Linked DNA regions of Homo sapiens. The protein of the gene in region 6 interacts with the protein of the main gene of each other region in a pairwise test. Each region holds a gene or a part of one and is shown on either strand. Other genes may lie near its edges.

Region 1 (3,500 bases), on a different chromosome or scaffold from region 6:
CTCCCAAAATGTTGGGATTATGGGTGTGAGCCACTGTGCCTGGCTTCTTAATCATTTTAAAGTGTACAGTCCAGTAGTGTTAAGTATAGTCAAATTGTTGTGTAAACAAATTTTTAGAACTTTTTCATCTTGCAAAACTGAAACTATACCTATTGAATAGTGACTACCCATTTTCCCTTCCCTTCAGCCCCTGGCAACCACAGTTCTATTTTCTATGAGTTCAGCTACTTTAGATACCTCATATAAGGGAGATTATACAGTATTTGTGACTGGTTTATTGCATTTAGCATAATGTCCTCAAGGTTTATCCATGTGTAGTATGTGACAAAATTTCCTTCTTTTTTAAGGCTGAATGATACTCCATTGTATGTATTCATTTTCTTTATCTGTTCATCTGTGGATGGACATCGAGTTGCTCCCATCTCTTGCTATTGCGAATGATACCGCTGTGAACATGGGTGTCCAAATATCTCTTTGAGATCCTGTTTTGAATTCTTTTGGATACATACCCAAAAGGGGGATGACTTTGTTCCTTTTTTAACACAAGCAAATATTCTGTAAGTTAAATTGCATAATTGGAAAAGATAACATTAATTTTGGGTTAAAAACTCGACATTGGCTGGGTGTGGCGGCTCACGCCTGTAATTCTAGCACTTTGGGAGGCTGAGGCGGGTGGATCATTTGAGGTTAGGAGTTCGAGACCAGCCTGACCAACATGGTGAAACCCCATCTCTACTAAAAATTCAAAAAAAAAAATTAGCTGGGTGTGGTGGCGGGCACCTGTAATCCCAGCTACTTGGGAGGCTGAGGCAGGAGAATCGCTTGAACCCAGGAGGTGGAGGTTGCAGTGAGCCGAGATTGCGTCACTGCACTCTAGCCTGGGCGACAGAGTGAGACTCCGTCTCAAAAAAAAAAAAAAACGCTCAATATTTGAAAGCATGAGAAAAATTTAAACCGTTCTGAATACTTCTTTTCTAAAAGTAAATATTTCATAGTGATAATAGTTAATGCCAGCCCATTTAAAATTACAAAAATGCACTTAGTTGATTTTGCAATAACCCCAAAACTACATCATTTGAAAATAAAAGCAAATAAGTTGGTGAAGAATATTTACTTTTGTGTGAATTGTACTGTGGACTCTGCACTGTTTCTTTTTGCATATAAGCATAAGTAACTTCTCTCAGGTTATAGCATTTTTAAATTCTAAAAGATCATTTAGACAGTAGTTTTGCCATTTTTATTCCCCTAGAAATGAAAGTTATACTTAAATAGGAAATTCATTTTTGAGAAATAGTAATTTAGGAAGAAGACCTTTATGACATTTTAGATGTCACTTTGCTTGATATATTTGCTCCCTCTAGTGAGTATTCCTGCCCTTGTTTGCAATATTTTACAGATTTAAGGCAAGAACTAGCAGTTCGGGAAAGACAACAGGAAGTAACTAGAAAGTCGGCTCCTAGCTCTCCAACTCTAGACTGTGAAAAGATGGACTCCGCCGTCCAAGCATCACTTTCTTTGCCAGCTACCCCTGTTGGCAAAGGAACGGAGAACACTTTTCCTTCACCGAAAGGTTTGTAATGTCTTTTCTTTTTGAGGCGATGTGTTAGATGATCAGCTTACGGGGGTTTGTTGCTGAAGGCGGTTGCTAAGGTTTAAAGAGTAATTTTAGTTTAAAAGTTGGTGAAGTCTAGTGCTATGTGAAATAGAAGAAGGAATTGTTTTCCTAGGCCACTAATATATAGGAAACAGTGAAATGATGGTTACATTTAAGATGAGATTTTTAAAAGTTAAAGGTTTTTAAGGAAAGTTTATTTTTTGATGATAGCAATAGATTTTGTGATTACAGCCGTATGTTTAGGTAGAAAATTTTAAAAACACAGAAAAAGAAAATAAAAATCATGTTATCTTACCACTTACAGGCACCCACCATTAACATTTTGAGTTTTTTTTTCTATTGTGTGCTTGTGTGTGTTTGTGCACATCTCTTTGTCACATGCAAATTTGGGGATCATATTTAAACACAGTTTTATTTCTTCCTTTTGCCACTTTCCATATCATGGGAGACCTGAGGCCTTTCTACATAGAATGTACAGAGAATCATTAAGTTATCTTTCAGACTCATGTAAGACCGGCTTGGATGGACATGCCCATTCTGTTACATGCTTCAGGAGCTGCCATTTTCAAAAGCATTGTTCGGAGTAATTGATGATTGGCACATACAGAATACTCACATTGCCATGAACCAGTGTGTTTTTTTAAAATCCGGATAAGCAGAAAAACCACCTAGTAGCCACTAGATAGAACCTTAAAATGGAATCTTAAAGCTCTCAATTGAGATTTGTTTAGATTTTGCAGCTCGTAGTTCATATTTCTGCTACTCTCATCCCCCCTTGCTTTTTTTTTCCACCCTATATTGAAGCTGTCATCCCACCCTTTTTAAAATATAGGGTTTTATCTTTTAGAATGCTATGTGGGCAACTAGTACAGTGAGCTCTCTCTGTCTGTGCTACTCAATAGTCACCAGCCCATGTGGCTATTTAAATTTATATTAAAATGAAATAAAATATAAAATTCAGTTTCTTTGTCACATTAACCACATTTCAAGTGCTCAGTAACCCTTGAGTAGGTAATTCAACTTGTCTTTGCCTTGTTACGAGATGATATCAGATAAGGTATGTGAAGGTGCTGTATGGTTGTAAGGTGTTACTAATTGCGCTAGGTTTACTGCTGAGGACAAAGGGCAGGCAATAGATTATTAGCAGTCATCAGGAGCCCTCACGGTCAGTTTTTCAGAAGAGCTGCTTGTATATTTGAAGATTTCACAATTACACCTGAGGACTAACAAAGTTTTACTTTTATGTTACTGATTAGAATTATGCAGATCTGAAAATCCTTTAATTGAAGACGAATCAGAATAGTGAAAAGCCTCAGGTGCGGTGACACCCACAGGTGGTGCACATTTTTTTTTAATAGCCCGTTAGAGTTTTCATTCAGGGACTTGGGGAGTCAAAAGGACATGGAGCCTGCTGTGGCACGGCATGAGGTGTGCCAACCCTATGGCAGTAATATTTGCTTAATAGATATGTTTTTAGGCTGGAACCAATAGCATGAATTTTCACTGGCTAACCTAAAAGCTGCTGTGTACTAGATCACTGCAATTTCATTACAAGAAAGCACAGAGTTGTGAGCAGCAGCAGGTGGTCAGAGAAATCGGTAAGATCTTAGAGCTGATCTTTCTGAAGTGGTCTGTCTTTAATTGTATTTTACCTTTTACAATGTTTGTTTCTCTTTCTTTCTTTCTTTCTCTTTCTTTCTTTTTCTTTCTTCCTTTCTTTCTTTTCTTTTCTTTTTCTTCTCTTTTTTTTTTTTTTTTTTGACAGAGTTTTGCTTTTTTTGCCCAGGCTAGAGTGCAATGGTGCGATCTTGGCTCATTGCAACTTCCGCCTCCTGGGTTCAAGTGATTCTCCTGCCTTGGCCTCCCAAGTAGCTGGGATTACAGG
Region 2 (3,500 bases), on a different chromosome or scaffold from region 6:
GTCATTACATTTTTTACTTTCCCCTTCATCTCCTGTGCTCCTCTCTTGCTTCCTCATATTTGCTTGGCAGAATCACAGTTCTGCTTAAGTCCACCTTTCTGCCCACTCTCTACCTGTCATGTATCGCTGAACGTGGCTAGAGAAAAACCTAATCATACTGTCTGTTCTCACTTTAAATTCATGGTCACTAACCTCAAATGGGTCCTAATGCTACCTGGAATCATACTGTATTTCCTCTCATCTCCTACTTTCCACAATGAGTATTTCAGACTTCTGCTTTTCTCCTCAAACTCTCAACACCTTTCCCCACATCCTCACCTTTGGGTTATATCTTCCTTTCTGTTTATAGACTTCCAACTCTTGTGTCCACCCACCTATCTGCATCTGTGCCCATGTACCCTGCCTTCCTTCCTGGAGGAACTACGCATGCCCTCCCCCTTTTCTACCCAAGGCATTACCTTAGCAGTTCACCTTCTCTTTTCTGCACCCTTAATTTTTTTTCTCTACTGGATATTTTTTACCAGCATCCAAATTTCCCTCCTCTTAAATATCCTCTCTTGACCCGTCTCTTCCTCCTCTGCCCCATTTTATTTCTTCCATTTTATAACTAAAAAATTACTTCAGTCATCTATACTTGTCTCCAGTTCCTCTTGTCTCATTGTTCTTGTACCCACTCAATAAGGCTTTTGTCCCCTCACACTGCAGAAGCTGTTCACATAGAGGTCACCAGTGACTTCCACATTCCCAAAGCCTGTGGGCTGGTCCTTATCTTCCTCATCCTACCTACAGCTTTGTAGGAGAGCTGGTCTCTCCCAACTCCTTAACCACTTTCTTGACTTGGCTTGAGAAAAACCACATTTCTCTCATTTTTTCCTTGTTCATCACTCCTCAGTCTCCATTATTCCTTAACCACCTAGGGTCATGTCATTGGACCTTTCCTTTCCTTTTTTTTTTTCCTATCTACGCTCACTCCCCTATTGATCCCATTGAATTTCATAGCTTTAACACTGTGTATATGCTGACAATTCCTAAATTTATATATCTAGCCAAGACCTCGCCTCTTCATGACAGAATAACTTTCAACTGCCTGTTTCCTATCTCCACTATGATGTCTAAAATGTGTCAAACTTAACATGTCCAAGCTAAAGGTCCTGTCTTTCTCTTCCTCATCTCCCCAACACTGATTCATGTTTTAGTTGATAACAACTCAATTTGCTCAACCTAAAACCTCGGAGTCATCCTAGACTTCTCTTTTCTCAGCATGATAGCCAGAATGATTCTGCTGTAATGTAAGTCAAATTATATCACTTCCTATACAAAAACCTTCCAGCAGCTTCTCTTAAAAATCTGTTATCCTAATGGCCTACGTGGTCTCATTCCCAGTTATCTCTCTTACCTTGTCTTCTCCTACTTTCCCTTTCATTCACTTTATTCCAGCCACACCAATTTCCTTTCTCACCCTTAAACACACCAGGATGCTCTTATTTCAAGGCTATTCTTTCCACCCAGAATATTGTAACTTCACCCTCATCTCCCTAGGTGTTTACTTAAATGTTTTTCACTCAGTCTGGCCATCCCTTTTAAAAATTACAACCCCAACTGTGAAGACTTCATGCTCTGTTTTCTCCAAAACGTGTATTACCATCTGCTATACCATACAAGAAATGTGTCATCTGTTGCCCCCAGTTGAGTAGGACTAGGGTTTTTGTTTGTTTTGTTAAGTATTGTATCCCTGACTCCTAAAGCAGTACCTGGCATATATAGTAGAATGATTGAATGAATGAATGAATATCAGAAATTTGGTTAACAACACTTATCTTAAGGAGCCTGAGACTTCTGGAGTTGAGGGTCCTGGAAGACAGTGATAGAAAGATTGAGTTTCCTTTCCCTTTGATTTGCCCCATTTTCATAAATATTGAAATCACTTTCTTGATCATGCAATTTGATGTTACTATTGATCCATCATTAATTTTGAACTGTTTGGCTTTGGGTTACAAATATTTGTTAAAATTTGGTACAGATTTTCTTTGTTATTCAAACTTTTGCAGTTCCTCTGTTGAGATAATACAAATTTGGATATCAAAGGATATTGTGTTATCTGAATCTACTTGGTTCCTTAGTTTTAGATACTGGGAAGTAAGATTTGGGTTACCAAGGGACTTATCTGAAAATTTAATCTGTTCAATTCCTGGGTCTGGATATCAAGAATTTGGATAGCGAGGGATATCTGTAATCATACTTTAAAATTTTAGTTATCTTAGCATCAGTTTTCTGAAAATTCACTAGAAAATTATAACAACCCTTAGGTGGCAGCAAATCAGTGAAAAACATCTGAATCCAGTGCTTAACATCTGCGTGTCATACTCCTCACCATCAGGGTGTTAAATTTAGAAAGACAGATATCCAGAGGCACAGTATGTGAGGAAGTTAGTATTACTCTCCAGCTCTGTTAGCTGAGTGAGTAATGGGGCTCCCGCTGTGGAGAAAGGTGCAAGCGTACCCAGGGACATGGGGAGAAATTAAAGTTAAAGGGAGTCTGGGAAGTAGTGACAGTGAGGAGAAGCACTCAGAAATTAAGTACTCTAATTGCCTCCTCAGGAATTCCGTCAGAAATCGCTGGACTGGGAGAAGCAACGCTTGATTTATCAGCAACAGGTATCTTCACTGGAGGCACAAAGGAAGGCTCTGGCTGAACAATCAGAGATAATTCAGGTAGGCCTAAGACTTTTTAAAATAATGAGAAGCAGATAGGTTTTGATCAAGTTTGAACTACCTTAATGCAGTGTCCTAGTACCATTTAGCCTCTTTCAGCTTCTCTCCACGAACCCTGCTCTCTTGTTTAGGAAGCCTCTCCTCAGCATCTAGACTCAGCTCCTTCTTCCCGCCTGCCCTCACACATGCGTGCATTCACTCTCCTGTCCAGGCTCATGTCCTTGTGCCCGCTTGCTGCTTTGCCTCCTTGCTTGTTTCTGACTTGCTCACCCACTCTCTGTCATTGTCTTGCTTACTCAGGCTCACTCTATGCTTGCATCCATGTTCACTCTCCTCATCTTGGTCCCTAGCTTTGTCGCCCTCTCTTCCTCCCCTCTCTTTCTTCCCTACCACAGTCCCATTCCTCCCTCTGTCTCCTTTTCCATGTCTTTCTGTCTCTTGTTGGGTCTCTCAGCTCTACTATAGTCTGTGCCTTGCTCCATCCCTATGGTCACTGGGGTATCTTGGCCGAAGTGTCTCAGCTAGGGAGCTTCAGTTAGTCTGCCTATGCGGACAGATACGGAGAGAGTCACATGGCAATGGTGTGCACACCAACTAAAAGTGGTGTCTTTGTGGTAACAAAAACACTTATTTTAGAACATTGATAGAAACTTTTCTTGTAATGGCTTAAGCAAAACCAAAAAACAGACACCTACTTTAGGAATATGTCTTGTAAGAACATATTCAGCTCATTCCTTTTTCAGTTAGAATCAAGAACATAAAGGAAACTAAAAAAATTTGTGATCATC
Region 3 (2,985 bases), on a different chromosome or scaffold from region 6:
GTCATTGTGAGAAACATATAAGAGAATGTATGTAAAGCACCTTTTATTATCATATCCTCTGTTCTGCCTCCTTTTGCCTCTCTCCACCCTCATCCTCTGTTATACATTGTCAGAAATACAGCTCCTTTAGTATAGAGTGTGTGTAAAGCAGTCTCTTTCTTTAATTAAAAAACAATTTTTAATTTCTCATGCCACCTTGTGTAAAAATGTGTAAAGCATTCTTCAAACCTTATAACCCAGTATAAAATGCATTCTTGGCCGGGCGCAGTGGCTCACGCTTGTAATCCCAGCACTTTGGAAGGCTGAGGCAGGCAGATCACGAGGTCAGGAGATCGAGACCATCCTGACTAACACGGTGAAACCCGTCTCTACTAAAAATACAAAAAATTAGCCGGGCATTGTAGTGGGCACCTGTAGTCCCAGCTACTTGGGAGGCTGAGGCAGGAGAATGGCATGAACCTGGGAGGCGGAGCTTGCAGTGAGCCGAGATGGCACCACTGCACTCCAGCCTGGGCGACAGAGCAAGACTCCGTCTCCAAAAAAAAAAAAAAAAGAAAGAAAAAAAAATGCATTCTCCTATGTCCAGGAAGGACTCAAATTATTTAAAAGTGCATTTGCATGGAAATTAACACATTTTGCATGGAAATTAACACATTATTGAGAAGAATCTTGAGACCTGAGTTTCAACTTCTGTCTCCTTACCACATTCTGCACAAGCCATCAAGTGACTGATGACTCTGGAGCAGGAGGGAAAAGAAGATGGATGACCTACCAGTAGAGCCTGGAAAATCCACAAACCCAGTAACCCAGTGCAAAAGAAAAAAACCAAAACCAAAAAAACATATTTCCCTCACCAAGAGTGACTGACAGAACAGATTTCAGTTTTCATAGGCTCAGTGACCTTCCAGACAGAAAGCATCTCACCCTGGCACCCACATATAAGCACTTCTTCCTCTTACCAGGCCATTCCTTCTGTTGCCCTCTGAGTAAAGAACAAGAATAAGACATTTTCCTTCATACAACCTACTTTTCACACTTCTGCCCCCAGGCTTGTTTTTTATGAAGAGGCCCTTCTTAATCCTTCAGATCCCAGCTGAGATATTATTTCCTCAGGACATGTTTTCCAGCTCTACAGACTAGGTCAGTTGCTTTCATAGCACTTACTGAAGTGTAATAGCATGTGTGCTTGATCACCTAATGCCTGTCTGCACAGCAAGACTGTCAGTTCCAGGAGAGTAGTGACCACTTCTGTTTAGCAAACTGTGGTATCCACAGCGATGACACATAGGCACTTAGCTATCTCTTATGTGTATGATGAAAATGAATTGTTTTACCATCCTTTCTTGATTTCATTATAACAGTGAATTATTGTCTCCCTACTGTCTTGCCTTTTTAATTCTTACCTAGTTCCAGCTGTCTGACTTTCCATCCATTGCCCTTGTCTACTTTGCCACTTCCTTTTCATCTTCTAGACTCCTGAGGAGGAGTTCCTTGAAGGTTCAGTTTTTCTCTCTCTGTTTTTTGCCTTGGAGAGCTAATGTATTTTTGCAGCTCCTTCATCCCCTTTTTGGGGCTGCCTGGCAGTTTGACCTTTCACTTGAGCTCCGGTGCCAGCTCTCTGGCTGTTTTTCTGGGCACTTCTATTTGGATTTCCTACTCTCACCTCAGATTCAATATGTCCAGATGTGATTATGTTAATATGAGAGTTGAGTTTTACTCAAACTTCTTTAAGTAAAAAAGGCAATTCAGGGACTTGTGCAGTTGGGAGAGATGCTGAAATAGCTCACAGAATAATGGGAAGAAGAGCGGCAAAAACCAGGGCCTCGGGGACTAAAACTGGGGATTTGGTGCCTGTTGGTGTCTGTGTATCCATCTGTCTCTCTCCTATGCTTTTCCTTGTCTCTAGTCTCTTGCTTTTCCACTTCTCATGATATGCTAGCCAAATAGCTTTCACTGGGCCCAACCATACATTTTCTCAGAATAGGAGATCAGAAGAAAGTAAATTTCTTAGACACAGAATCCATATATTGATCCCAGGGAATGACTCTGGCCCAACTTACCTCATGCGCCTAATCCCTTGGCTCAGTCACAGTTGCCAAGGGGGATGGGAATACCATGATTGGCCTGTATTGGGTCACAGGCCAATCCTTGTTAGGGAGAGGGGCTTGATTGTGGTCTCACCAGTATAGCCTGGCTTCTCAAGTTTTTTGTTGTTGTTGTTTCATTTTTTTTGAGAAGGAATCTCACCCTTGTTGCCCAGGCTGGAGTGCAGTGTTGTGATCTCGGCTCGCTGCAATCTCTGCCTCCCGGGTTCAAGTGATTATCCTGCCTCAGCCTCCCAAGTAGCTGGGACTACAAGCGTCTGCCACCACGCCCGGCTAGTTTTGTATTTTTAGTAGAGACGGAGTTTTACCAGGTTGGTCAGGCTAGTCTTGAACTCCTGATCTCAGGTAATCTGCCTGCCTTGGCCTCCCAAAGTGCTGGGATTACAAGCATGAGCCACCGTGCCCAGCCGCTTCTCAAGTTTTTAAGGTTCAGTAAATATCCTCTACCTGAAAGGAGGTAGAGTTCTCTCGCTACTCATATTGATCTCTTCTCCCTTTTAAGAAACATTCATTTTTACCTTTAATCACATAGTATAACTAACAGATAAAAGGCTTTTATTTTCACCCCAGACTCAGACTCATTGTTTATGTCCTCATGTTGTTAGATCACTGTTTCACCTGTGTCTGATTTGTCTTCCTAACTAGATACTAAGCATCTAAGAAACCATGTCTTAACACATCTTATGTATACCCTAGGATTTAGTACAGTCGCAAGCATGTAGTGTATATCAGTAAGAACTTGTAAACAAATTAGATTTTGGCTTATCCCACTCCTGCTTGGTTTCTCTTAATCCTATTATGATTTCTTTTTTGTCTTATGTATCTTTCTGATATGTAACATATTCACGGCAGGGCCTGGGCACCTGCTTTCATGGACCAG
Region 4 (3,500 bases), on a different chromosome or scaffold from region 6:
CTCCCAAAGTGCTGGGATAACAGGCGTGAGCCACTGCACCCAGCTTCTCACCCCAGTATTCTTGTTCAGTGTATCTAGGATGTAATTTTAAAAACTCCTTCAGCTGACTGACATACAACCCAATTTGGGAATTCCTTAGTAAAAGAAAAGAGGTAAAAACAGTTTTCAGCTGGGTGCGGTGGCTCACACCTGTAATCCCAGCACTTTGGGAGGCTGAGGCGGGCGGATCACTAGGTTAGGAGATCCAGACCATCCTAACACGGTGAAACCCCGTATCTACTGAAAATACAGGTGTGGTGGTGCATGCCTGTAGTCCCCACTACGGGAGGCTGAGGCAGGAGAATCGCTTGAACCCAGGAGGCGGAGGTTGCCGTGAGTGGAGATCGGGCCGCTGCACTCCAGCCTGGGCAACAGTGAGACTGTGTCTCAAAACACAACAAAGAACAGTTTTCAATGTGAAGGGGAAATCGTTTTCTGTTATTTAATAGGAATTGCAGTAATACAGAGGCTGGGAAGAAAAACTGTCAGTGAGATAATAATCCTTAGAAGAGGAGGCAGAAGTGGGAGACAGTGAGAACATGAGGATGTGAAAAGCATAAATTATTAATTGGCTTGAAGCTTCTGAACAATGGAACTTTCCTCCTAAGTTATATCCTGCTGGATCTCTCTGAAATACTCATGGGTAGTTGGAACCTGACTTTTTAATATTTTATATTATCTACTTTCCTGCGTGTAGCATTGTTTTAAAATGTTCTATCTCTTTAAAATATATTTAAACAGCTTTATTGAAGAAGGTCAGTTTTAAGCAACATTTCCATATCTGGTATTTGTTATGCATTATACTAGGTGCTAGAGAAAAGTCAGATGCTTTTCTTGGCTTAAAGAGCATAGTCCAATATAGGGGTATAGGCATAATATCTGCCTACAGATGTCTGTAATGTGCATCAGTCATTAACATGACAGTCCAAAAACTTCAAATTGTACCCCATTATTTAATCAAAGTAGAAAAAGTCTACCAAACTGTCATGACCTATACATTTTACTGTCCAGAGACTTGGGGGAGATTTCTATTTTGGTGTCTAATTCTTTGTAATCTGTTATACTATGGGAATTTGTCTTCTTTTATCTAAAACCAGGTGGTCATGGGATATAATCTCCTTCTCCTTACCCTTACCTCTCATCCCCCCAATTGTGCACATCGTACACATTGTCATCTGTTTTTTTCTAGGGCTCAGGATGGGGTTGAGGCTTGCTTCTGAATTCTAAGTACTAATGAGGCCACCACTCAATCACTGTGCTAATGTACAACTGTCTGGTTCCTTCTTTCTTTTTTTTTTTTTTTTTTTTTTGAGACGGAGTCTCGCTCTGTCGCCCAGGCCGGACTGCGGACTGCAGTGGCGCAATCTCGGCTCACTGCAAGCTCCGCTTCCCGGGTTCACGCCATTCTCCTGCCTCAGCCTCCCGAGTAGCTGGGACTACAGGCGCCCGCCACCGCGCCCGGCTAATTTTTTGTATTTTTAGTAGAGACGGGGTTTCACCTTGTTAGCCAGGATGGTCTCGATCTCCTGACCTCATGATCCACCCGCCTCGGCCTCCCAAAGTGCTGGGATTACAGGCGTGAGCCACCGCGCCCGGCCCTGGTTCCTTCTTTCTGCTTCTTATCATGAACCTGAACTCCTAAGAGATAGGTCCATAGACAAGTATTCATATAATGTTAACCAGTTCATTTTTTCATTTAAGTATAGCTAAGTTTGTGCATATATATATCATTTTCTACGCCTCTTTTGCAGGTAGTAGCCATGGTTATGTGGGTTCCAGTAGTAGAATATCAAGAAGAACACATTTATGCTCCGCTGCTACCAGTAGTTTACTAGACATTGATCCATTAATTTTAATACATTTGTTGGACCTTAAGGACCGGAGCAGTATAGAAAATTTGTGGGGCTTACAGCCTCGCCCACCTGCTTCACTTCTGCAGCCCACAGGTAAAATAATAACAATGATAATTTCCTTTTTTTCTGTGGTTCTCTAAAAGAACTCTTGGATTTTCATTTAAGTATTTCAGCTATGTGTGGAACATGGTGTATTTCTGTGTTTTTCATTGTATACCATAAAAATGACATTTATGTCAACCAAATTAGTTTTTAAATTACCGTTCAAAGGTGATTTGTGCAAAAACAAAGTAAAAATGCCTGCAAGAAGGTTTTTTGTGACTTGCTACTCAGATTTTGCCTGACAGTTTGATCCATATGAAATACGGTTATCTTCTTTATGAATGGACTTTTTTTGGTCAGGCTTCATGAATTCCCTTACTTCCAAGTGGAACTATATCTAAATTGAACGTAGAAAAAGGTGACTTACTCATTCTTTGATGTTCAGTAGCTTAAAAATGTATGCCAGTTGGCAGCACTGTTTTCTGTGCAAAGGTTATTTGTTAAATAGAAATTACATTTGTGTTACTATAATAAAATGGAGATTTGTATAGTCAAATATGGGCTTTTTTAAACTCTCGGGGATAGAGTCATTTTGGACAACTAAGTATTTGCCTTTAAAAGCTACATTTTAAAAACCATTTTTGTTGGAATGCTTTCTAAAGTATAGTCAGTATATTCAAAAATATATGCCAAATATTTTTCTACCTTCTTAAACAATAGTATTATATACATCAAATCAATGATTTAGAACTCTGATTTTGATGTAGTTTTAAGGCAAGATAACTCATTTTTCAATCAAAGTCCAAGGCAGAACCTCTGTGTAAATAACAGAGAAATAGAGCTCTTCTACTGGTGTAGGGACATGGAGCCCAGATTATTTAGGCTTCTTCTTTCCTAAGAGCCAGATATACTTCCTGAAAGTCTGGATCCTCAGCTTAAAAGACTATCTTCAGGTTATGAAACAGTTGCCTTTTATGTGTGCGCCAAGTATGCTTTATATAAAGTTTTACTTAAATGTTAAGTGTTGTTTGCAAAGGCCCAGTGAAACAGACAGGTTCTGATTCTGTAGGTAGATATGTAAGTTGGTTTAACCTTTTTGAAGGACAATTTTGTAGTAGTTTAAAAATATCTATATCCTTTAAACTTGTAATTTCACTTTGAGGAGTATATTCCAAAGAGAAAACAAGCAGATGTTTAAAAATATTCAACAATACAGTTATAGCTGAATAAATTACAGTGTAACCATGCAATGGTATATTTTATAGACAAGTAAAATCGTGTTTTTGAAAATAATCAGTATCATTGGGAAAAATGCAAACTAAATAGTAAGATTTCTGTGTAAAACTAGTTTTCTGTGTAAAAACAATACAAATGAGATGATCTGAATTTCAAATTTAGGTGATAAAATGCTGGCAATAATGAGGGCGGGGAAAATAGTAGAAAGAAAAAGCAAGTTTTGGATTTAAACATCTTGAGTTGGGCATAACAGTGTGACATCAAATTAGAAAGGACCAGTAGACAGCTAAAAATTAAGAACTGGGGCTGGGCGCAGTGGCTCACGCCTGT
Region 5 (3,500 bases), on a different chromosome or scaffold from region 6:
GTTTTCTTCATATATATATAAAATTAACAATTAAAATTTTTGCAGAATGAGGGCCTGTCTGGGTAAGTTATCAGAATAGCAATTTAAAATACTTTTTTAGCTGGTCAAATGTTAGGGCTTCATATAATTTATCGGAGAATCAGTCCACAAGACTAAGAAACAGACCAAGTAAGAACTGTTCACTCTTGACCCAAACTTCTTTCCGTTCTCTATGTTCTGTTACCCCACCCATTGTTGCCACTTCTTGACTTCCATTTTGATGTTTAAAACGAAGTCTCTCTTGTACCATTAAATTGTGCCAAGAAACCTGCCATTCATAAATCATGCATGCCCAGGATACGCTAATGCACAAACTTTGCTTGTTTCAAATTTGAGAGTGCCTGGGAAGCCAGATCTCAAGATTAAGCAAATAAAGCAGGAATACACAAGGTGAAAGCCGAAGCAACAAAGTGTAGGGAGAGGCGTTTTAATGTAGGTGGATGATGAAATCTTAATGAAGAAATGGGCATTATCAAAATGCAGCCTTCCGTTTGGAACATTTGTGCTTATGGGAATATTGAATATTATAAATAAACATAAGCTCAAAGAGCTCCTAGGCCATGAATTAATCCTGCTTGGTTAAGATGGTTGCCAAAAATCAGAGTTTAAAAAAAAAGTAGGCTTGTTATTTCTTGATCATAGTTTGATATTCTTAAGATATTAGTACCTGTTTTTTTAAGGGTTCAAAATTAATGATTGGTCCAACGTGGACTTCTTCCACCAAGATTTTCCCTTTTGTTTTTGTTTGTTGTAAATATCAAAGTTCATTATTAGCGTATAGTTTGGAGTTTGGTTCTTTGAGTCACCTCTGGTTTCAGAAAAGGAATCCCAAGCTTTGTAGCCTGATTAAGTAGGGGAAACAAAAGTTCTTGCTTTTCTTATCCCTGGGCACTTCTGACACAATTTCCCTCTCAGCATCATCTTCAGAAGTGGGTTGGAGTTGACGCCCAAGCTCTTGTCTGCTACACAAGCACAAGTGAACATTTCCCCCTTTGTCTTCCTCTTTGAAATTTGACTGACGTTGGAGGGAAGGTGATGAGGTTATTAGAATAAATCACCTCCCAGTTGCAAATCAGCTGGTTATAGGAAAAGCTTTCTAATTAGTATAAGTCTCAGGTAACCCAGAAAGAGGTGGTCATCCTAACGAGAAGTTCAAGGGCAATAAGGATGGTAATCAGGAAAGTCTCATGCCTCAAAAGTGCCCAAGATAAATGTCCACCACCTAAAGGGCAAAGCCAGTGGTCACCTTGTAATCAATCCACCAGCAGCCATCCCAAAGCTGATTTTCCCACCTTTAGGCGACCTATTGCACAGCCCTTGATAATCCCTAGGCAGAATCAATGGCTTGTGGAGCTTTCCAGGTTATGTTGCAGAAGCAGTGGGACTCGGGATGGTGAGTGAATGTCTGACAGGCTGAAAGGTCATCTGCAGGGGTTCTGAGACTGAGCTAGTCTTCAGGATGACCTCAAATCTCATCCTCTCTCAAAGGTGAGAGTTAAGGGTGAGAGTCTTGTAAATGGACTATCAGTACCTTAGAAGGAATCCTTACATGCATTCATGCAGTCAACAGCGAGGGGAGAAGGCTGTTTCCTTTCCCCCATCTCTTTCCTGTACAATAAATACAGTATTTATCAACCCAAGGCTTTTCAGAGTCTTTAAAAACAACTCTTAAGTCTGCTCGTCTATAATAAACACCCCACTTCTCCAGTGATTTTATAAAACATATTTGGTGGGTCATTGTGAGGGGCAGGTTTCATACCTAGTCTGCACACCTAGTCTGAAGCACAGCCTGTTACCATGTAACATGCTTGGTCATGAATAGTGCCCTTTTCCTCATTGTGAAGTGTTAAGCTTTTATTCATGAAACAGTTCGGCCAACTGGAATTATCTCCAGCCTTCCTACCCAGCCCTCTAGCCTGTCTATTCTTCTAGCTCAAAAGTCACAAATTTGCTAGGATGAAAGGAAAAAAAAAAGTTGCTGACATCAGTCTCTTAATGGTTTGGAATTCAGGGATAAGTTTTCAAATATTTTCCTTTTTACTGAAGTGATTGAGAGCGTGTTCATTTACATCCCCTATCAAGTCACACAGAATAGCTCTCAGAGCCTTGGAGGCCATGATTTACACATGTATTTTAATGAGCACTCATGACATGCTGTTACACTGAGAGCAGCTCTTCTCGACTCTGACAGCGGGGGTCATATCACAATCTCCTCTTAAAACATGGTCCCCAGACCAGCGGCATCAATGTCTCCTGGGAGCTTGCTGGAAATACAGGATCTCAGGCTCTACCCGAGATACCCAAGACTCTCGGAACAGAATCTGCATTTTTAAAAGATCCCCAGATAATCCCCATGCACATTAAAGTTTAAGAAATGCTGATCTAGGGAGATTATTCAAAGTTCATTAGGCAACTCCCTGCCTTAGTCTGTTTGGGCTGCTATAACATAAAAACCATAGGTAGGGTGGTTTATAAACAACAGATTGTATTCCTCACAGTGCTGCAGCCTGGGAAGTCCAGGATCAAGGCACAGGCAGATTTGGTTCTGGTGAAGGCCCACTTCCTGGTTCATAGATGTCTGTCTTTTTACTGTGTCCTCCCACCACAGAAGGTATGAGAGAACTCTCAGGGTTCCTTTTATAAAGGCACTAATTTCGTCATGAGGGCTCCACCCTTATGACCTAATCAACTCCCAGAGGCCTCACCTGCTGATACCATCACCTTGGGGGTTAGGATTTCAACATAAAAACTTGGTGGGTTGGGAGGAACAAACACCCAGTCCATGGCATCCCCCAATATCACCAGCAGCCAGAATCAGAGACTCTTATGACAATGGATGACCCACATGAAGGCAGTGAATGTCCTTATTAATGCTCCCGCTCTCACTCACCACCCCAGGCCTCCAGATGAGAATGACAGAAAGGAATAATGTGTGGGAACGTTTTTGCTTCTGTTAGGAGTTTCATATCCTCAAGACCAAGGGAAGTTCTCTTACATAGTGGAAGCCCTCTTGAAGTCCTTGCTCTGAGATTTTATCCAATGAAAGTTTTGCTTTGCTGATAAAAAGACCTTATAACTCAGCAGAAAACCTGTATGTGTGGCCTGGGAATTATTTTATCTTTCTCTCAGATCCTTCCCAGCAAGAAAGAGATTGATTCCTGTCTCATCAGTGATGAGTTCTTATTGTAAGAAGATACACAGTTGTAAGGAGTTAGACATCTTGCAGGATCCTAGGAACAGCCCTGTAACCCAGCCTCATTGGAACCTGGAATGAATTTGGGCATTAGAGCATCCAGCAAACCACAAGGCTGCAGGCTGTATCATCCTCTCCTCTGCAGGAGGCAGGCATCTAATCCCCACACCCAGAATGACTAATGACCCATCTCCCTGTCTTCTCCTGCGCCCTCCAGGACGTTTCTCTACTGCATTGGATGGCTTTTGGCTGAACCATGATTCCGGTT
Region 6 (3,500 bases):
CACTCTGTGTGACTGTGTGCTGCAACTCTGCAGGTGGCTCAGAACACACACTCACTTGTCAGATACTCAAACAGTACAGACAGAATAAAGGCCCCCTTGACCTACTCACGGAAACAAGTTATCAGTTTTTGTGGTCTTTCCAGACTATTCTCTATGTATTTTCATGTATATATAGGGAACACAAACTCATCTGATACTCAAAACAGTATAGACAGAATAAAGGCCCCCTTGACCTACTCACAGAAACAGAAGTTATCAGTTTTTGTGGTCTTTCCAGGCTATTCTCTATGTATTTTCATGTATATATAGGTAATACAGAATAAAAAAAGAGCAGAGTTTTTTCTCCTCTGCATTAATGACATCATACCATACACATTGTTCTGCAGTTTTTTCCCCTAACAGAATGATTTTGAGATTTTTTCATGTTGGAACACAGGAATCAACCTGAGTCTTCTTAACTACTACACAATCTCTTATGTAGTATGTATCGTAGTTTATTTAGTATTCTCATTAAGGACCGTTGCTGCAGTGAATGAAAAACTACAGTTGCTGGGTCAGAGGTATGCGTTTTACTTCATAACTGATGGGGCTATAACCATGTTGCTGCTTGTGGATTTAATCCATTTATTTTCAACTGCTTAGTGTATTCAGTTGTAGGCTTTTTTTTTTTTTTGAGATAGGGTCTTCCTCTGTCGCCCAGACTGGAGTGCAGTGGCACTCCAGGGCTCAAGTGATTCTCCCAAGTAGCTGGGACTACACTTGCGTGCCACCATTTAAAATTTTTTGTAGAGATGCAGTCTCGCCATGTTGCTCAGGCTGGCAAGTGATCCTCCCAAAGCGTTGGGATTACAGGCATGAGCCCCTGCACCTGGCCCGGTTGTGGACTTACATCACAGCGCACGTGTCCTTTTACTCACTGAGGAACAGTTGGGTTCCTTTAGATGCTGATTCTTCAGTGGGTCTGTGTGTTGCAAATGCATCCTGCCAGCCCTAGGCTTTTCTTTCCCTTTGTTAACAATGTATTTGGTTGTATATACCATTTAAGTTTAATGTCATATTTATGAAAAATTTCCCTTAAATGGCTTGTCTTTTTTTGGGTGTGTATCTGGTTTAAGAAAATTTTCTGTCTCTCATGGTGTTAATGATATATTCTTAGAGTTTCTTCCAAAAGTTTAAAAAAGTTTTGCTTTCCAGATGGAATTTATTTCTATGTATGGTATAATGAAAAGATACAATTTTTTTTTCAATTTGGATGACCAGTTTTTCAGCACTCTAACTTTTTTTATTATAGTAAAATACACATAACATAAAAATAACAATTTTAACCATTGTAAGTGTACAGTTCTGTAGCATGAAATACATTCACATTGTTGCACAGCCATCACCACTGTCTCCAGAGCTTTTTCATCATCCCCAACTGAAACTCTGTACCCCTTAAACACCAGCTCCCCATTCTTCCCTCAGCGCCTGGCAACCACCATTCTACTTTCTGTCTCTATGAATTCGACTACTCTAGGTACCTCATATGAATGGAATCATTACAATATTTGCCCTTTTGTATCTGGCTGATTTCACTTAGTATAATGTCCTTAAAGTTCATTCATATTGTAGCATGTGTGAAAATTTCCTTTTTAAGGCTGAATAATATTCCATGGTATGAATATACCACATTTTGTTTATTCATTCATTGATGGACATTTGGGTTGTTTCCCCGTTTTGGCCATTACAAGGAGTGCTGCTATGAACATTGGTATCTGTATGTCTGTTTAAGTCTCTGTTTCCATTTCTTTTGTGTATGTACTCAAGTGCAATTGTCAGTAATACAGTTTTTAAAACAATATACATAATGGAATAAAAATAGATTAACACAATTTTGACCAATGTGGCTGAATAGTATGGAGTTTCCATATACCCACTCTTTCCCATATGGTTTCTCCTATTATTAACATCTTGCATTAGTATGCTACATTTATTATAATTGATAAACTAATATTGATACATTGTTGTTAAAGTTCATGATTTAGAGTTCACTCTTTGTATTGTATAGTTCTATGGGTTTTGACAAGTGCGTAATGTCATGTATCATTTACATGGCATGACTGCATGCTACAACCCTGCAAGGGGCTCACTTGTAAAATACTCAACAGTACAGACAGAATAAATGTCATTACATGGCTATAGTTTTACCTTTTCCAGAGTTGGAAATGTCATAGATTTGGAATCATGTAGTATGGAGCCTACTCAGATTGGCTTCTTTTGCTTAGCAGTATGCATTTAAGTTTCCTCTAAGTCTTTTTTGCGACTTGATAGCTCATTTCTTTTTTTTATTTTTATTTTTTGAGACTGAGTCTCACTCTGTGGCCCAGGCTGGAGTGCAGTGGCGCGATCTCGGCTCACTGCGAGCTCTGCCTCCCGGATTCACACCATTCTCCTGCCTCAGCCTCCCGAGTAGCTGGGACTACAGGCGTCCGCCACCATGCCTGGCTAATTTTTTGTATTTTTAGTAGAGACGGGGTTTCACCATGTTAACCAGGATGGTCTCGATCTCCTGACCTCATGATCCGCCTGCCTTGGCCTCCCAAAGTGCTGGGATTACATGCGTGAGCCACCGCGTCCGGCCAGCTCATTTCTTTTTAGCGCCGAATGATAATATTCCTTTTTATGGAAGCACCACAGTTTGTTTATTCGTTCACCTACTGAAGGACATCTTGGTTGCTTCTAGTTTTTGGCAATTTTTGAATAAAACTGCTATAAACATCCGTGTGCAGGTTTTTGTGTAGACATTAAATTTGTAACTCACTTGGGAAAATACCTAGGAGAGTGATTGCTGGGTCGAATGGTAAGAATATATCAAGCTTTGTAGGAAACTATTAAACTATCTTTCAAAGTGACTGTATCATTTGCATTCCCAATAATTTTTAAAATTTATGTCCAAGTACCCTAAATGTACTTATATAATAAGTATGTCAGACTGTTCTGTAAAGTTAAACTTCACCTGGAATAATATTTAGTCATTGGTTTTGTTGGCTGTCTTTCTTGCAGTGTATCTCTTCATGTGTTTTGAAGTACAGACTTTTTTTTTTGAGATGGAGTCTGGCTCTGTCGCCTAGGGTGGAATACAGTGGCATGATCTCAGCTCACTGCAGCCTCTGCCTCTACCTCCCAGGTTCAAGCGATTCTCCTGCCTCAGCCTCCCGAGTAGCTGGGATTATAGGCACCCGCCACCACGCCTGGCTAATTTTTGTATTTTTAGTAGAGACAGGGTTTCACCATGTTGGCCAGGCTGGTCTCAAACTCCTGACCTCAAGTGATTCGCCTGCCACAGCCTCCCAAAGTGTTGGGATTAAAGACGTGAGCCACCACACCCAGCCAAATTACAGACCCATTTTCAGAGTGAGTGCTTTTGATTTTGTTTTCTTTTCTTTTTTTTTTTTTTAATTTTGTTTTCTTCTGTGCCCACTGTCCTCTGTGTGGTGATATTTCAGGTGCTTCAGCTGACC
Region 7 (3,500 bases), on a different chromosome or scaffold from region 6:
TGTCTGGGAATCCTTAATTCACATTCTGATATTTAAAAAAAATAATACATGGTGTTAAAACACCAGGAGAACAATTTGATATAAAAATAAAAGCATTTCTTTCTACATTTTAGCATGGAAATAACCAGCCTGCAAGAACTGGCACACTGTCGAGAACAAATCCTCCTACTCAGAAACCGCCAAGTCCTCCCATGTCAGGCCGGGGAACACTGGGGTAAGAATTCAACTACATTTTGCAAAAGAATTCATATGCTAAAGGAAAAGATGTTTCTGTGACTTAAGTAAGTGTATGGGATCCATGCCACACTACCCTCTCTATGTGACGCTACCTTTTACAAATTCATTTTAATTCCTATTTTCCTGAACAGAATCCCAAATGAATCTGCCAGCTTTGTAATATTCTCTATAATCTGTACTAGGAAAGTTTTTATGTATGTATAAATGGCATGATTTATTTTTTTGTCATCTAATTTTTAAAAAATATAAATCTGACTTGTTTGTTTTAAATGGAATGATTAGAGTATTCCAAATGGTGCCTTTGCATGTGTTTACAGTATCTATATTGTAGAACTTTGACTAGTGGTCTACTTTTGTGTAGTATGGCTTAGTCCACAGCTCTTCTGTTTCGCCTATTGGTGTCTGAGACTTAGGGACTCTTTACTTTAGGAAAGTATGCACTTTACTTGTAACTATGCTTCTGCTGGTAATCTTAGGCCTCTTCACACTAGAGTAGCTCCATGGGAAGGCCAGTTGGGCAAGTAGAAAAGATAACAGTGGCTTCTTCCTTCCTAGTTCTCAGTGTACTAAATATAGCGAATACTTGTCAAAGCATTATATTTCTTTAAGGTTGTTTTTCTTAATACTGGAAATATTATATTGGATTTCTTATTTTTTGGCAGAGGGGTTGTTCAACAATCAGTCTTCTTTTAAGAAGGTCTTAGTTTTCATTTTTATTCATTAAACCCTCTGCCCCTGAAAAAAAAAATGAAGTTATTAAACAGAATAGTCGAAATCATTTATTGAGAAAGTAATGATTAGAATGTATATCTCCATTTATTGCCATATTGAGATGGGAATAAATTGCAGCTTCCTATGTAAATAAATTTAGCTTCCTGTTTAAAGAACAGTGGCTTATGGGTGACTGTACTGAGAAAAATGTACATTTTAAAGTTTGCTATTATTGAGCATTTAAAAAATTATAACCATAATTTTTAGAAATAAGGTTAGGACTTTAAATTACCCTTTCCTATGTTTTTCCTAGGAAAAGGTAACAAATTTTAGTTTTCATGTTAAAGTAACAAAATTCATATATCCCAGTGAAGAATATTTTTTAAAATTACAAACTTTGTCATATATATTTTTAAATCCTGGTATACATGGTCACAAAGGGAGACTCACATATTTTTGGGAAAAATACAATTTTATCTTTTTTATTCATTATTCCTTTCTCCACTATGCTCCTTTAGACGGAATACTCCTTATAAAACCCTGGAACCTGTTAAACCCCCAACAGTTCCTAATGACTATATGACCAGTCCTGCTAGGCTTGGAAGTCAGCATAGTCCAGGCAGGACAGCATCTTTAAATCAGAGACCAAGGACACACAGGTAAGCCTTTAGGTTGAGTATCTCAACATCTCTAAAGTGGGTGTAACTGACTGGCGACAAACTCCTATGGAGGTGCTGAGTAAAGGTGAGGTGCCACTCTAATGCTAATATAAAATGTAAAAGTTGGGGGAATAATATTATATATGTTCCTGTAAGTTTGTGTTATAACTTCTGTTTTGTTTTGTTTTTTTAACTTTTTAAAACATCTATTTGTACTATTAATGGATTGTTTGTATTTCCTCCTTTTGATAGAGGTACAGACTCTATCAGACTCTACGGGTTAAGACTAAAGAATTTTTTTCTTTTTTTTTTTGTGACGGAGTTTTGCTCTCGTTGCCCAGGCTGGAGTGTAGTGGTGCGATCTCGGCTCACTGCAACCTCTGCCTCCCAGGTTCAAGCGATTTTCCTGCCTCAGCCTCCCAAGTAGCTGGGATTACAGGCCTGAGCCACCACGCCTGGCTAATTTTGAGTTGAGACGGGGTTTCTGCATGTTGGTCAGGCTGGTTTCCAACTCCCAACCTCAGGTGATCCTCCTGCCTCGGCCTCCCAAAGTGCTGGGATTACAGGTGTGAGCCACTGTGCCCAGCCCTAAGAATGTTTTAAAATGCTCTTTTAAAAAAATTCAAGGCAAACCACTCAAATACTTTTGGAGAAAAGATTAAATATCATAGGAATTATACAACGTGATTTAAACTTTCAGAGATTGAAGGAAAGAAGATTAAGCTTAAATCTGAGGGAGATTTTTTTAAGAGAATCAGTATACTAGAATATGTTGTTATAATAATAATATTATTATTATCTTTTTGGAGATGGAGTCTAGCTCTGTCACCCAGGCTGGAGTGCAGTGACGCGATCTCGGCTCACTGCAACTTCTACCACCCAGGCTTAAGCAATTCTCCTGCCTCAGCTTCCAGAGTAGCTGGGATTACAGGTGCATGCCACCACGCCTGGCTAATTTTTGTATTTTAGTAGAGATGAGGTTTCACCATGTTGCCCAGGCTGGTCTCTAACTCCTGACCTCAGGTGATCCACCCACCTCGGCCTCCCAAAGTGTTGGGATTACAGGCATGATCCACCGCTCCTGGCCTTGTATTTATTATTTTTAAATGTCCTAAAAGTCAATTACCCGGTGGGTTTTTAAAAATTTAGTTACAGAGCATAACAAGCATTCAGAAAAGTATCCACTTCAGTAAGTATACAGCTTGATGAATGGACACACACTCATATAACCATCACCCAGATCAGAAAATGGAACATTACCAGCAACCCAGAAGCCCCTCATGCTCCTTCCTGGTTATCGCCTCGACCTTCTTCCCCCAAAATATAGCCACTTCAATTTTTGAGTGCTTTATAAAACCAGATAAATTTATTATATAACCAAATTTGTTTTATTCTTCAGTTTTCTCTCTCACTTAATAACGTGGGCAGGGAACCTCTCTTTTGCCTTCACTCTTAGGTTGGTAAATGAGAGATAACTTATCAAAATGATTTATGGGAATTCCACTAAATAGGGTATATCAAGATGCGAGATGCTAGGTAAGCGGTATTTATTACTATTGGTGCTGTTAGTAAACAAATTGTTAAGTTGATATCTGCAGTTACTGTATCAGGTCAAGTTCTTTGAGGAACAAAATTGTTCTCTTTGTTGTTATTGAACTCTTGGATCAAAGTATAGTTTTTCTCTATAGTGGAAGCATAGTTTAATCATATTCAACAAGCAGTTATTAAGTGTTGTTTCATTAGATACTAGGCATTTGTCAATAGGGCATAGTTCTTTTTTCAAGAGCTCATTCTGTTAGAACAGGGATCAGCAAACTTTTTCTATAAAGGGCCAGATTGTCAATATTTTAGGATTCGTGGGCCATATATATGGTTTCTGATGCAATTACTCAG

What was found.
Region 1: the proteins of DTNB (region 6) and NDEL1 interact in binary tests that used the Homo sapiens proteins (3 or more experiments, as listed by UniProt).
Region 2: the proteins of DTNB (region 6) and CEP63 interact in binary tests that used the Homo sapiens proteins (3 or more experiments, as listed by UniProt).
Region 3: the proteins of DTNB (region 6) and TSACC interact in a two-hybrid assay, tested with the Homo sapiens proteins (one large-scale study listed by BioGRID and IntAct).
Region 4: the proteins of DTNB (region 6) and TRIM37 interact in binary tests that used the Homo sapiens proteins (3 or more experiments, as listed by UniProt).
Region 5: the proteins of DTNB (region 6) and POU6F2 interact in binary tests that used the Homo sapiens proteins (3 or more experiments, as listed by UniProt).
Region 7: the proteins of DTNB (region 6) and ABI1 interact in binary tests that used the Homo sapiens proteins (3 or more experiments, as listed by UniProt).

The regions. Positions count from the first base shown.
Region 1 is NC_000017.11:8,449,384-8,452,883, forward strand, and holds part of NDEL1 (nuclear distribution protein nudE-like 1), read left to right. Parts: intron 1-1,396; coding exon 1,397-1,570; intron 1,571-3,500. UniProt on the Homo sapiens protein: Required for organization of the cellular microtubule array and microtubule anchoring at the centrosome. May regulate microtubule organization at least in part by targeting the microtubule severing protein KATNA1 to the centrosome.
Region 2 is NC_000003.12:134,534,557-134,538,056, forward strand, and holds part of CEP63 (centrosomal protein of 63 kDa), read left to right. Parts: intron 1-2,598; coding exon 2,599-2,712; intron 2,713-3,500. UniProt on the Homo sapiens protein: Required for normal spindle assembly.
Region 3 is NC_000001.11:156,341,526-156,344,510, forward strand, and holds part of TSACC (TSSK6-activating co-chaperone protein), read left to right. Parts: intron 1-2,985.
Region 4 is NC_000017.11:59,030,381-59,033,880, reverse strand, and holds part of TRIM37 (E3 ubiquitin-protein ligase TRIM37), read left to right. Parts: intron 1-1,790; coding exon 1,791-1,985; intron 1,986-3,500. UniProt on the Homo sapiens protein: E3 ubiquitin-protein ligase required to prevent centriole reduplication. Probably acts by ubiquitinating positive regulators of centriole reduplication.
Region 5 is NC_000007.14:39,208,409-39,211,908, forward strand, and holds part of POU6F2 (POU domain, class 6, transcription factor 2), read left to right. Parts: intron 1-3,500. UniProt on the Homo sapiens protein: Probable transcription factor likely to be involved in early steps in the differentiation of amacrine and ganglion cells. Recognizes and binds to the DNA sequence 5'-ATGCAAAT-3'. Isoform 1 does not bind DNA.
Region 6 is NC_000002.12:25,667,078-25,670,577, reverse strand, and holds part of DTNB (dystrobrevin beta), read left to right. Parts: intron 1-3,500.
Region 7 is NC_000010.11:26,766,959-26,770,458, reverse strand, and holds part of ABI1 (abl interactor 1), read left to right. Parts: intron 1-113; coding exon 114-214; intron 215-1,466; coding exon 1,467-1,607; intron 1,608-3,500. UniProt on the Homo sapiens protein: May act in negative regulation of cell growth and transformation by interacting with nonreceptor tyrosine kinases ABL1 and/or ABL2. May play a role in regulation of EGF-induced Erk pathway activation. Involved in cytoskeletal reorganization and EGFR signaling.